2 separate regions of the Homo sapiens genome follow, and region 2 is linked to region 1. Evidence: fine-mapped expression QTL. A gene starts in region 1. The other region holds a variant in brackets. All regions are shown on one strand. Distances are between the middles of the regions.

Evidence for each region. PIP is the estimated chance that this variant, and not a neighbour inherited with it, causes the effect.
Region 2: its variant is fine-mapped to the expression of ESRRG in pancreas (GTEx, PIP above 0.99).

The regions. Positions count from the first base shown.
Region 1 is chr1:216,721,335-216,726,720 of GRCh38, reverse strand. ESRRG (estrogen related receptor gamma) reads left to right here and starts at 3,292. Exons shown (of 7, transcript NM_001438.4): 1 at 3,292-3,477. The coding sequence starts at 3,422.
Region 2 is chr1:217,096,440-217,101,825 of GRCh38, reverse strand. It overlaps a transcript of ESRRG not described here. Among named protein-coding and RNA genes, the nearest start is that of ESRRG, 380 kb to the right of the region's middle. The variant T/A (reference allele first, on the strand shown) is at 2,338.

The DNA.
Region 1 (5,386 bases):
GATGCATAATAGACTGATATTAACTAATTTATTAATATTCTTTGTGAAGCAATCATGAGAGATCCTTTTGTTTGGTTCAGTTTTTCTTGATTTGGGTAGACTCCTTGTGGTAAGATTGTGAAGTGTATAGACTGGGAATATATGTGTATCCTAGGCTGTTTATCTGTTTGTTTGTTTATTTGTTTTTCCAGATTTTTTTTGTAATTGAGATTCTTGAAGGTTTAAGCTCAGTATTACTCATGGCACATTTATTTCCCATGATTATCCATTGTTTTCTCCTGCAAGGTGAGAAAAATCTGGGACCAGGGAAGTTTCTTGAGATGACTGAGCTGTGTATTTGTAAAATATTCTGGAAGCTGTCTCACAAGTTTAGTGAAGAGGATTTTTAAAAATTTTAAATTGGTTAAACTGGATTCAAGACAGTAAGTACAGTCTTTAGGTCCTTGACTTGTACAGGTGATACTTTGATCCCAAGGGGAAAATATCCAAGTCTACAAACCTAGTACACATCTGGTCACTCAGAAAGCAGCGAGTTCAGTGAACACTGCACCTTGCGTAGATGAAATATGGTTAGTGAAAAATCAGTGGGGATGACACTATGTATGTTTGTACATGTATCTCTGTGAGCACAGAACAATGACTTACGCATGAGTCTAAATATCTTTAAAAATATACACCAGTGAAGTCAAATGGATCATAATGAGGGCAAATAAGTACCCAAAGGGAAATAAGAAAATGATGGGAAATTAAAGATCACTTGTACGACATTTGGTGACTTGAGATCCACCGGTAAATACACTACAAATCTTGTCTTTAAAAAGCCATTTCAAAGGAGTAATAAAGAGGTTCTGTCACAGCATAATGTAAAGAAACTGAACACAGTACAGGATTCTGCACCGGTGCAAAATCGGAATGCATTCTTTGAGTACATTAAGATGCATTGAGTACATTAAATAATTTATATTTTTTAAAGAAATATCCATAGCCAAACCAAGAAGGAAAGTTTCTTTCTTTTTTGTGTGTGTGTGTATCTTTTTTAAAGTATGTGCAATTGAATCTATTAATTACCCTGAGAATTTTAGTTTATTCAGAAATCACGATAGTAATCATATGAATCAAAGGATGTTTTTCTGTCTTTGTAATGCAGTATTAGCTTCCATATTTCTTTGAGTGTATTTTAGAAAAATCATGTTTCTTTTGCAAAATGCCTGTTTTATTTATTTTTTAATTGTAAAATGATTACGTGTCTTATTTTAGATTGAATAGACAATTTTTTTTTTCTCTCAGTGTCTGCAGAATGCTTGGATTTTCTTCTACATCTCAAAGCTCTTTTAATTCACTGCTCACAACCAAATTTACATCTTAATTGCAGAGTTCACATTTAACAATATAGACAGCATAATGCTACTGGTAATTAAGCTTTTACTACCTGCTTTTATACAGTATTCTGAGGCACAGTTTTTGCTATGTGAGTTCTGATCTAGAAACTTTGTATGCATTTAGAACACAAATAAAAGGAATTAGGCCTATATCTTAGATATAGCTAAATACAAGGCAGTGAAATTGCTTTCTTCTGTGGGGGGACCAAATCATGTCTGTCATTTTTATATTCTGAATTTTAATGTGGCTGCTCTATTTTAGTGTTTTGGTTTTTTAAAGACCTAGAAAATTTGAGAGGGTTAAGGGAGTTGAGTCCTAATTTAGTGAATTTAACATACGATGAATATCTGAACTAATTTATTTTGATCTCAAAGATTATACTATTTCTATCATGTAGGACTTAAGATGTAAAAGGTTGATAAGCAGTAGAGCTGAATTATATCAAAATTGTGGGTTTTTCACTCTCCATAAGGTAGCAGTTATCTCTTTGCCATAAATAGCTGGTATCTATTCCAATGTACATTTGCTAGTATAAAAAAATCCTGTAGATTAAAATAGGACCTAAGCAAACTCTTTGTTATATGGAAATTAAAGACACGGTGTACACAATTGAAGGAGGAAAAAACACACTTGTCCTCTTATATCCTCCTTTTATTTTTATTTTTTTGAACACTTTTGATTGAGAATTCTTAGTTTTGTAAATTATTATCTGTTTGAAACTAGTTCTTATAGTGACCAGACTGTGTGATGGTTTATAAAATGTTTCTGGGTTGATTTTTTTAAAGCATATAGGGTGCCTTATGTATAGAAACAAATGTGTACACTGTGTTTTATTTGAAAGCAGGATGTTTTGGGTAAAATCATATATAAAATTATATGCCTCCTAGTTTGGAAGCTTGTATTGAAATATATACATATAATTAAGAATACTTTTAGTGCACTGTTTAGTAATGCTCTCCCTACAAAAAAAAAAAAAAATGCTGTCTTTATTTTGTCAAAATGCATCGAGAGAGATTTAATTCGCTATTTACCCCCACAGCCCTCAGACTCCCCACCCCTAAAACTGAAGAAGCCAATTTGTCCTGCGGCTGTTTACCGTTGTTTTGAAAAGCTATGCGTTGTATCTATATGTAAAGAGACAGTCGCAGGTATAGAAAGGTTTACACATATAATTTACTTAGGCATTCTTTCAAATTGTATTGTCACTATCTCCTCTTCTGTAGTTGTGTAAAACTGCATTCCACCTCAGAGATGACGATCCCAGTTCACATGCTCAAACAATTTAGAAGAATGCCTTTATTATTATTATTTTTAATGCCCAGCATACATCAGGAAAACAGGAAAAGACATGATTAGGAATACATGAGAAAGTACAGCACCAAATAAGCCGCGGCCCCCGGTGTAATAAAAACACAGACAACGGCAGGACAAACTTAATTCTCTACCTTCCGCAGAATCCTTTCCCAAATTAACTGAGAGTCTGCGTGAGTTCTCCTTTTCAAGGCAAAAGAGATCTTAGGTTAGAAATCAAAGGCAAATCCCTCCAGTGCTTAGAGAGTTAAGTTAGTTATGTTTCTTTTGTAGCTTCCCAGAAGAAAAAAAAAAGAAAGAGAGAGAAGGGAGGAAAAAAAATCAAACCCGAGAGTGTGTATTGGGAGCGTTTCAATCGCTCCCTTCTCCGCTCCCTTTTTCTCTGCCCACTCTCAGTTTCCAGCCCCCTTCGGCTCTCTGCACCCTGCCTACCTGCCTGGCTCCTCTCGCTCCGTGCAGCCTCCCGTCGCCTCCCTCCTGATTGGGCAGAGGCCCCCCAATCGGCTGCGCGGCTGGGCCGGTGGGACTGCATATGTAAAGCCCTACTTCATATTAATAAGCTCCAATCGGGGCTTTAAGTCCTTGATTAGGAGAGTGTGAGAGCTTTGGTCCCAACTGGCTGTGCCTATAGGCTTGTCACTAGGAGAACATTTGTGTTAATTGCACTGTGCTCTGTCAAGGAAACTTTGATTTATAGCTGGGGTGCACAAATAATGGTTGCCGGTCGCACATGGATTCGGTAGAACTTTGCCTTCCTGAATCTTTTTCCCTGCACTACGAGGAAGAGTAGGTACCTTTTTTCTTTCCTTTTTAAACTCGTCGTGGGGGTGCGGGGGTGGGGGCGGACAGACTATATCTTTACACACTGATTCAGGTAATGCCCTGGGTATTTTGTGTGCACGACTGCTTGTTTGTGTCTGTCTTGTGTCTTTTGTGTTGAGGGTGATCTCCTAATTCAGTAAGTCGAGAATTGTTCTCTGACTACAATGTTACCTTTGAGGCAAAGCTCAGTGACTGTCAGTAAAACAGCTGTGTGACAGTCACTTCTTATTCAGGTGCTAAGAATAGGCACTTGGCACAAATGCTTAGTGAACTGTTAAAATGCATCTTTTACTAGGACCCATTTTCCCAAGGAAAGATGTTTTAAAATACAATATTCAAAATGATTTATACTATTGAGGGCCTCTTATGTATTTGCAGTTTGACAGATATTTTCAGCTCCTTGTCATTTCTTACCGCGCAGAGTTAGAGGCAAAATTGCACATTTACTAATTCTCCTTCAGAGAACAATTTAAAAGCTAGCCCTATGCAATTCTGAGCTAGAATAATGTTATTTGCATGGTTAGCGTTAAGTCAGCACTTAACTGACAAATCAGTCCATTAAGTAACATGAGATTTTCACACATTATAAATATTTAAGGGGGGAAAAAAAACTAAAGAAGAAACAGTAGTGACTTTAAAATTTTCCCCTTAAATACTGCTCAGAGTGTGGATTTGTCTCGTTTGTTGTGTCCAGAAAATATAGAAAAGTACTTTCGTTCTTACAAGCAGTTTAATTAGTATTTATGGATATCTTTATGCACATGGAAATATATATTTAGATTACTAAAGGGGGGGGAGTGAGTAGGGGGTACGAGAAGTAAGTTAGGCATTTTTGTGTAAATGAGTAGGTGATAAACTTAATTTCAACCTACTGTTAAGATAAAATGTTAGTATATCACGAGAGCTGTCACTGGTTTATCTCCCTTTCTGTTGAGTCAGTTATATTGCTTTGCTTTCACATTACAGTAATACCAACTGTTATAATTCTGAAAAGAGTGCCCTTGGCAAACATTTCTCTCTATAGATTGTGAAGAAAATATCAAACTCTAGAAGATGAGGTAGTGCATTATAGGTAGATGTCCACTAGCTGTCCTTAGTGACTGCATATTGCATTGCTTTGTAATTAAGTAAGAGATGAAAAGTGACTTGCAGTCTCAGTGGCTGCTCCTGTATGTTTGAGCGTGAGTGTGAGTGTGTGTGTGTATGCACGCTCACACATGCACATCCACCCACATCCATGCTCACACAGGGAATATTAGCCAAGAGATGGATTTAGGAGGAACTGAAAGATTATAAGGCTGTGCTTGCATCAGTTTGAAACACTCAAGGGAAGAAACAACCTTAAGATGTGTAAAAATAAAAATGAAAAATAAACAAAGGTAAGACTGCCCGCTCAAGTGTAGTTTGAAGGTTAGTGTACTTCGGGCTGTAGAATTGGAGAGTTTAAGACGTCTTCGTGTCAGGAAGAATGTCTTATCCAAGCACGCCCAGATTCTGAACTTTCTCTTGTAAATAAATAAAGAAAACAAACTTTAAAAATCCCCCAGAGGCTTCTTTTTGAAGTAGTTTCCTTGAATTTAACTTCTTATAGCTAATTTGAATAATTCGTTTAGATAAGCCTCTTAAAGCAGATGCATTTAAATGAAGTCAAGGCACATGTCCTTTTGGCTTTGGCGCAAGATTCAAACTAGCTTTCTTTTGGGCTCAATTAAAAGTCATCTTTAAAAAATACAGATTTATTGTCTGGATGCAGTTCTGATGGTTACGTGGTTCACTGGACAGACAGAAAGATCTAACGCTAAGCAACGCATCTGCCTCTCTGTCTCAATTAATAAACCACAGAATTTATACATGCTATTAATATTCATAGTAA
Region 2 (5,386 bases), 380 kb before region 1:
TCAATAAATAAACAAATAAAATAAAAAAAAAAATAAAATGTTGTTTTAAACCACAAACACATACACACACAAGAATGGAAAGAAAACTTGTTGAGGTAGAATCAACATGACTTTATAAACTAAATGAATATGCATGTGGGTGTGTGTGTTTGCTGATGTGGGAGGTGGAGTGAGGTAGGAGAAAGCATTTGAGATAGATTTGGTTTGGAAACTAAATGATCCTACAGATGATGATACTTTGAACCAAGACTAGGAGCCAAGGAGCTAGAACCATTTAGGAAGTTGGGCCAATAATTAATTCAATTTTCTATCTTATCAGTTTGAAATGCTGATGGGCATCTATGTACTAATGGTAAGGAAAGAGGTTGAGATTTCTGACCTAGAATTAATGATTTAAGGATCATTAACACATGTGTCAAAAATAATAACTGATATTAGTTGAAAGCTATGATCACTGTGCTAAACATTGCATATACATTGTCTCACTGAATCCTGTCAGCATCCCTAGGAGGTATTAGCTACATTTCACAGATGGGGAAAACTGAGGCACAGACCGATTAAGTAACTTGCCTTAGGTTACCTGATTAGGTGGTCAGGAAGGGTTTGACTGCAGGCAGTTTTATTCTGGAGCATGTGCTCCTTATTCTTTTTTGTTCTGTCTCCAAAGAAAAAGTTGAAGTCATGAGGTTGGCCAAAAGAACCTGGCAAGAAAGAGGATGTGTCTCATAGAGGCATGTTTTAGGCTAACCGTCAACACTTTTTGCTTGACTTTCTCATTACCAATAGGTTACTCTTTGTAAAACAAATGGTAAGGGTTCCAAAGATGCTATGTCAGTGAATGAATGATTAGATGTTAGAGGTTCAGGCTTTGTGGCCATAAAGTAGAGGAAGACTAATGATATAGTTTGGATGTCTGTCCCCTCCAAATCTCCTGTTGAAATGTAATCCCCAAGGTGGGAGGTGTTTGGATCATGGGGGCCGATTCTTTGAGAGTGGCTTTGTGCCATCCTTGGGGTAATAAGTAAGTTCTCACTCTGAGTTCATCCAAGATCTGGTTGTTTAAAAGAGAGTGGCACCTCTTACTTCTCGCTCTTGCTCCCACTCTCGCCATGTGATGTGCTGGCTCACCCTTCACCTTCTGCCATGATTGTAAGCTTCCTGAGGCCTCACCAGAAGCAGGTGCCAGCACTATGCTTCATGTATAGTCTGCAGAAATGTGAGCCAAAATTAAACCTCTTTTCTTTACAAATTACCCAGTGACAGGTATTTACAGCAATGCAGAAATGGGCTAATACAACTAACTGGCTCAGGATAAGGTTTAGCCTCCAACCCTGTCCTCCAGCAAGGCACTCTAACCCACAGTTTGTGAAGAAAACTAGATGAGGGATAAGTAGGATTGGAAAAGATACTGTCAAAGGGCACCTAACAGAATCACCTGGGGTGATCCATCATTCAAAGACAAACTCCCATTTCCAGCCCTGACCTATTATAGAGTGTTGGGGTCAGCCTGGCATGCTGTGCTTTTAACAAGATATCTTGACTATATTGACCACCCAAGTTGGCTTGGGAATGAAATGTATTTTTGTCATATAAAGTACAGCCTTAGAGAAATGATACTGGTTTTCTGTATGAGTCCTAAACCATCTATGAAGGTGATTTTAAAAGAGGAATTCCCAGAATGTCTAGAGCAATCTCAGGATCACTAAAGTAATTACATAGCTTCCCCAAGTGACTATTTTGAAGGGAAATACTTATTTGGATTTGCAGTTTCTAGTGTGTTTAATAAATACCACTTTCATTACCAAAATAATTCACTTCACAAATGCGTTTTTTTTTTTTTCTGGATAAAAAGAAAATGTAACGGAACGGAGCATTCATCCAACATTATTACTACGGATTCTCCACTTCATTGTTATTCTCCGTGTTTGGAGAGGAACTGGTCAACTGGGTCATTTTCTGAGCTTGATGGGCCATCATCACCCCTGCTTATGTTTGAATTGCTCACAGCACTTTGACCTTTACAGAGAAAAGCTCCACCTGGATGCAAAGCATTGTTATTGTGTAGTGGAGCCCTTGTACAATTGTGGGGAGGATCCAACTAACACCTGTGTTACAGTCTGGCTGCCGTTAGAACTCTAGAGAATGTTTCTCAGAATCATGGTTTCACTGATGGAGAATCTGAATCCAGACAATGATGACCATTTTTGCACCAGAGATCTTCTGAATTTTTATATCTCAGCCTGGTCTGGTGTTGGTGGCTAGAAAATAGCATCCTGGGCTGATGTATTGGTCCTTGGTACAATTCATGGCTATCCACATTATATTAGATTTCATAGA[T/A]ACTGTTGGAAATATCTAGCACATGTGCTTTATCCCACAATAATTACATAGAAAATTAAAAAGAATTAATTCTAATGTAACCATCTTTTTACTTGACTTTTTTTTTTTTTTTGCTCTGCTCACAGGTCTAATTGTTGTTATTCTCACTTTATTTTTCTATAAGGTAGGAATAATATCCACTTCATTAGCTCATCATGAGGGATAAGTAGGATTGGAAAAGATACTTTCAAAGGGCACCTAACTGTGAAGAAGATGCCTTCATTTGCATTTCTTTCTTGGCACATTTCTTGTTATCCAGTCATTCATTAGGACTCCATGTTTATTGAACACCTACTCTGTGCCAGGCACTTTTCTCTGTTCTGGAAATATCACCATGTAAAAACAAATAGCTGAAGAATGCCCTGCCCTCATAGAGCTTACAGACATAGAAGACGAGACAGTAAACAAAATAAATGAGTAAATTATGAAGTGTATTAGAAGGTGTTAAGGGCTATGGGGGAAAAGAATAAAGCAGGAAAGTAGGTGAGGACTGGGCTGCGGGCAAGGTGATGTTTCTGTTTTAAATCAGGTGACATAGGTAGTCCTCCCTAAGAGGGTGCTACTTTAACAAAGTCTTGAGGGAGCTGAGGAAAACCATGGCAACATATATCAAATCACATTCCATGGGATGTTAGTCCTGAGAAATGCTGAGTTAAAAGTGGTTTCACTGTTCAATCGCTTTGGAAATAATAAGTTTTGGAAACTTAGAATGATTGTAGGCACATTAAATAATTTGAAAAAGCCTGCTGGAAAGGAACCTGTTTAACTCAAAACATAATGAGCAGTATTTCCCTCCCTCCCTTCCACCCTCCTTTTCTTCCTGTTTTCCTTCCTAATCTGATAGAGCAGCTAGACCGTTTCTCTGTAGCAACCTTCAAATGTGGATACACTCCTACTTGCCCATCATCAGTGGAGCTTCTGAGGGGCTCCAGGAAAAGAGCATCGATTCTGGAATCCCGGATCTCAGTATGAGACTGGAATGTGCCACTTTGTCCCTGAGCAAGCTAAGCTTTCTTTTTGGCTTTATCATCTATAAATTGGGCATAATAATAATGCCAGCTATGCAGGCTTGTTGTAAAGAGTAAATAAAATCAGGTGTTAAAGCACTTTCTAAATGGTAAAATACCATAAATATGAGTGTTTTATGATGTACTTTTTCACTTGCTTTTTGGTACTCAGAGAGTCAATTCACTGTGATGACTCTGTCTAGGGTTCATTTATAAAGAGCTTGCTGATGGAGGGTTGAAGGAGAAGGGATAAGCTTTATGGGTCTGTGAAAGTGTAAAGAACTTTCATGTTCTGGACAAGAATCCAACACTTCAGCCTTATTTGCATCAGGCTCCAGTCCATGAAATTAACTGGCCACAGGCCCATTTCCCTACATTTGCCAGTGACTCTCAAACTTTGAAGCACACTAGAATCACTTGGGGATTGTAAAGCAATACTATTGCCTGGTTCCCACCCTCAGATGTTTGACTAATTGCTATGGGGTGTGACTGGGGCATTAGGATTTTAAAAAGCTTTCCAAGTGATTCCAATGTGTGGCAAAGTTTAGGAACCATGGTCATAAACTAATCCCTGAGATCATCTTTTTTTTTTTTTTTTTAAGCAGCCTGGCCAAAAGAAATACTTACAAATTGATCATGGTTGCAAATCGATGAACTTGATTCTTTTCTTATGGGAAGGTAAGCAGTTAGGAAGAAAGAAAGGAAGAGAGGGAGGAGAATTGCTTTTATCAGCTGCCTACTTTGACAAGGGATTATGCCATCACATGCATTATCTCATTTAACTTTCCCAATAACCCCGATACTTAAATATTATAAAATTTCCATTTTGAAAGTGAAATACACAATCAATGAGAGCTTAGGAAAATTCCTCAGGAATTTGAAAACAGGACATTCGGTTGTGCAGCCCTCCTTTACATTTACAGTGGCTTCTCCTGCTGTCATTTTCTTTTTCTTAGCTTTCTGGCAAAGCCTGGTATTGAGCATTTACATATCAGTGTCAAATGAAGTCAGTGTTATTTTCTTGCCCGGAAAGTCAGCCTTTGAGTTTTAAGTCTGATTGGGAAATGACAGACTTTATTCCCTACAAGAACTGTACACATAAGAGTAAACAGTAAATTTAGGAGTTTTATAATAGAGAGGTGCCTTTTTTTTAATTTTTAGAGGGGGTGGAGTGCAGTGGTGAGATCACAGCTCACTGCAGCCTCATCCTCATGGGTTGAAGGAGAAGGGATAAGCTTCATGGGTCTGTGAAAGTGTAAAGAACTGTCATGTTCTGGATAGGAATCCAAAACTTCAGCCCTATTCGCAATCCTGATCCTCCCACCTCAGCCTCCTGAGTAGCTGGGACTACAGGTGCACATCACGACACCCAGCTAATTTTTAAAATTTTTGTAGAGATGGGGTTTTGCCATGTTGCCCAGGCTGGAGAGGTGCCTTCTAAGCAAAGCATCTGTATGTAGCCTACAGCCTAGCAGTAAGGCTAGCCCAGCTTTTTTCCATTTTCCAATTCATCTTAAGCATTTTCAGAGAATTGGAACAGATGCAGGCAAATGTTCTCCTTGATCATTGTTTATTCATTTAGTATTTATGGAGCATCTACTGTGTGCTAGGCACTAGGAATAAAAAAATAACTAAAACATCTTTTACACAAAAGGCAGCAAAGACAGTCATATTAATAATAATTAAAGCATAAATACAATGATATCAGTTTGTGGATGGAAGTAGAGACAAAGGAGAGATTAACCTCAGTGGGCTGTCATGGGGAGGACAGTGGGAGGAGTCATCCTGGAGGAAGTTAATCAAGGAAATGGCTTTTTAAACATGTGATTGGGTTCAGTCAATCCACCCCTTTGGCGACTCGTAAACACCAGTGCTCTAAGGATCGTTACCTGAGGATTGTTGGAGGATGATAGGGCAGTTACTAAGAGGAAATCCAGGTTCTGGGAAGTTGAATGACTTGCCCAGGGTCGCAAAAGCAGTAAGAGGCAGAAATGAGACTCACA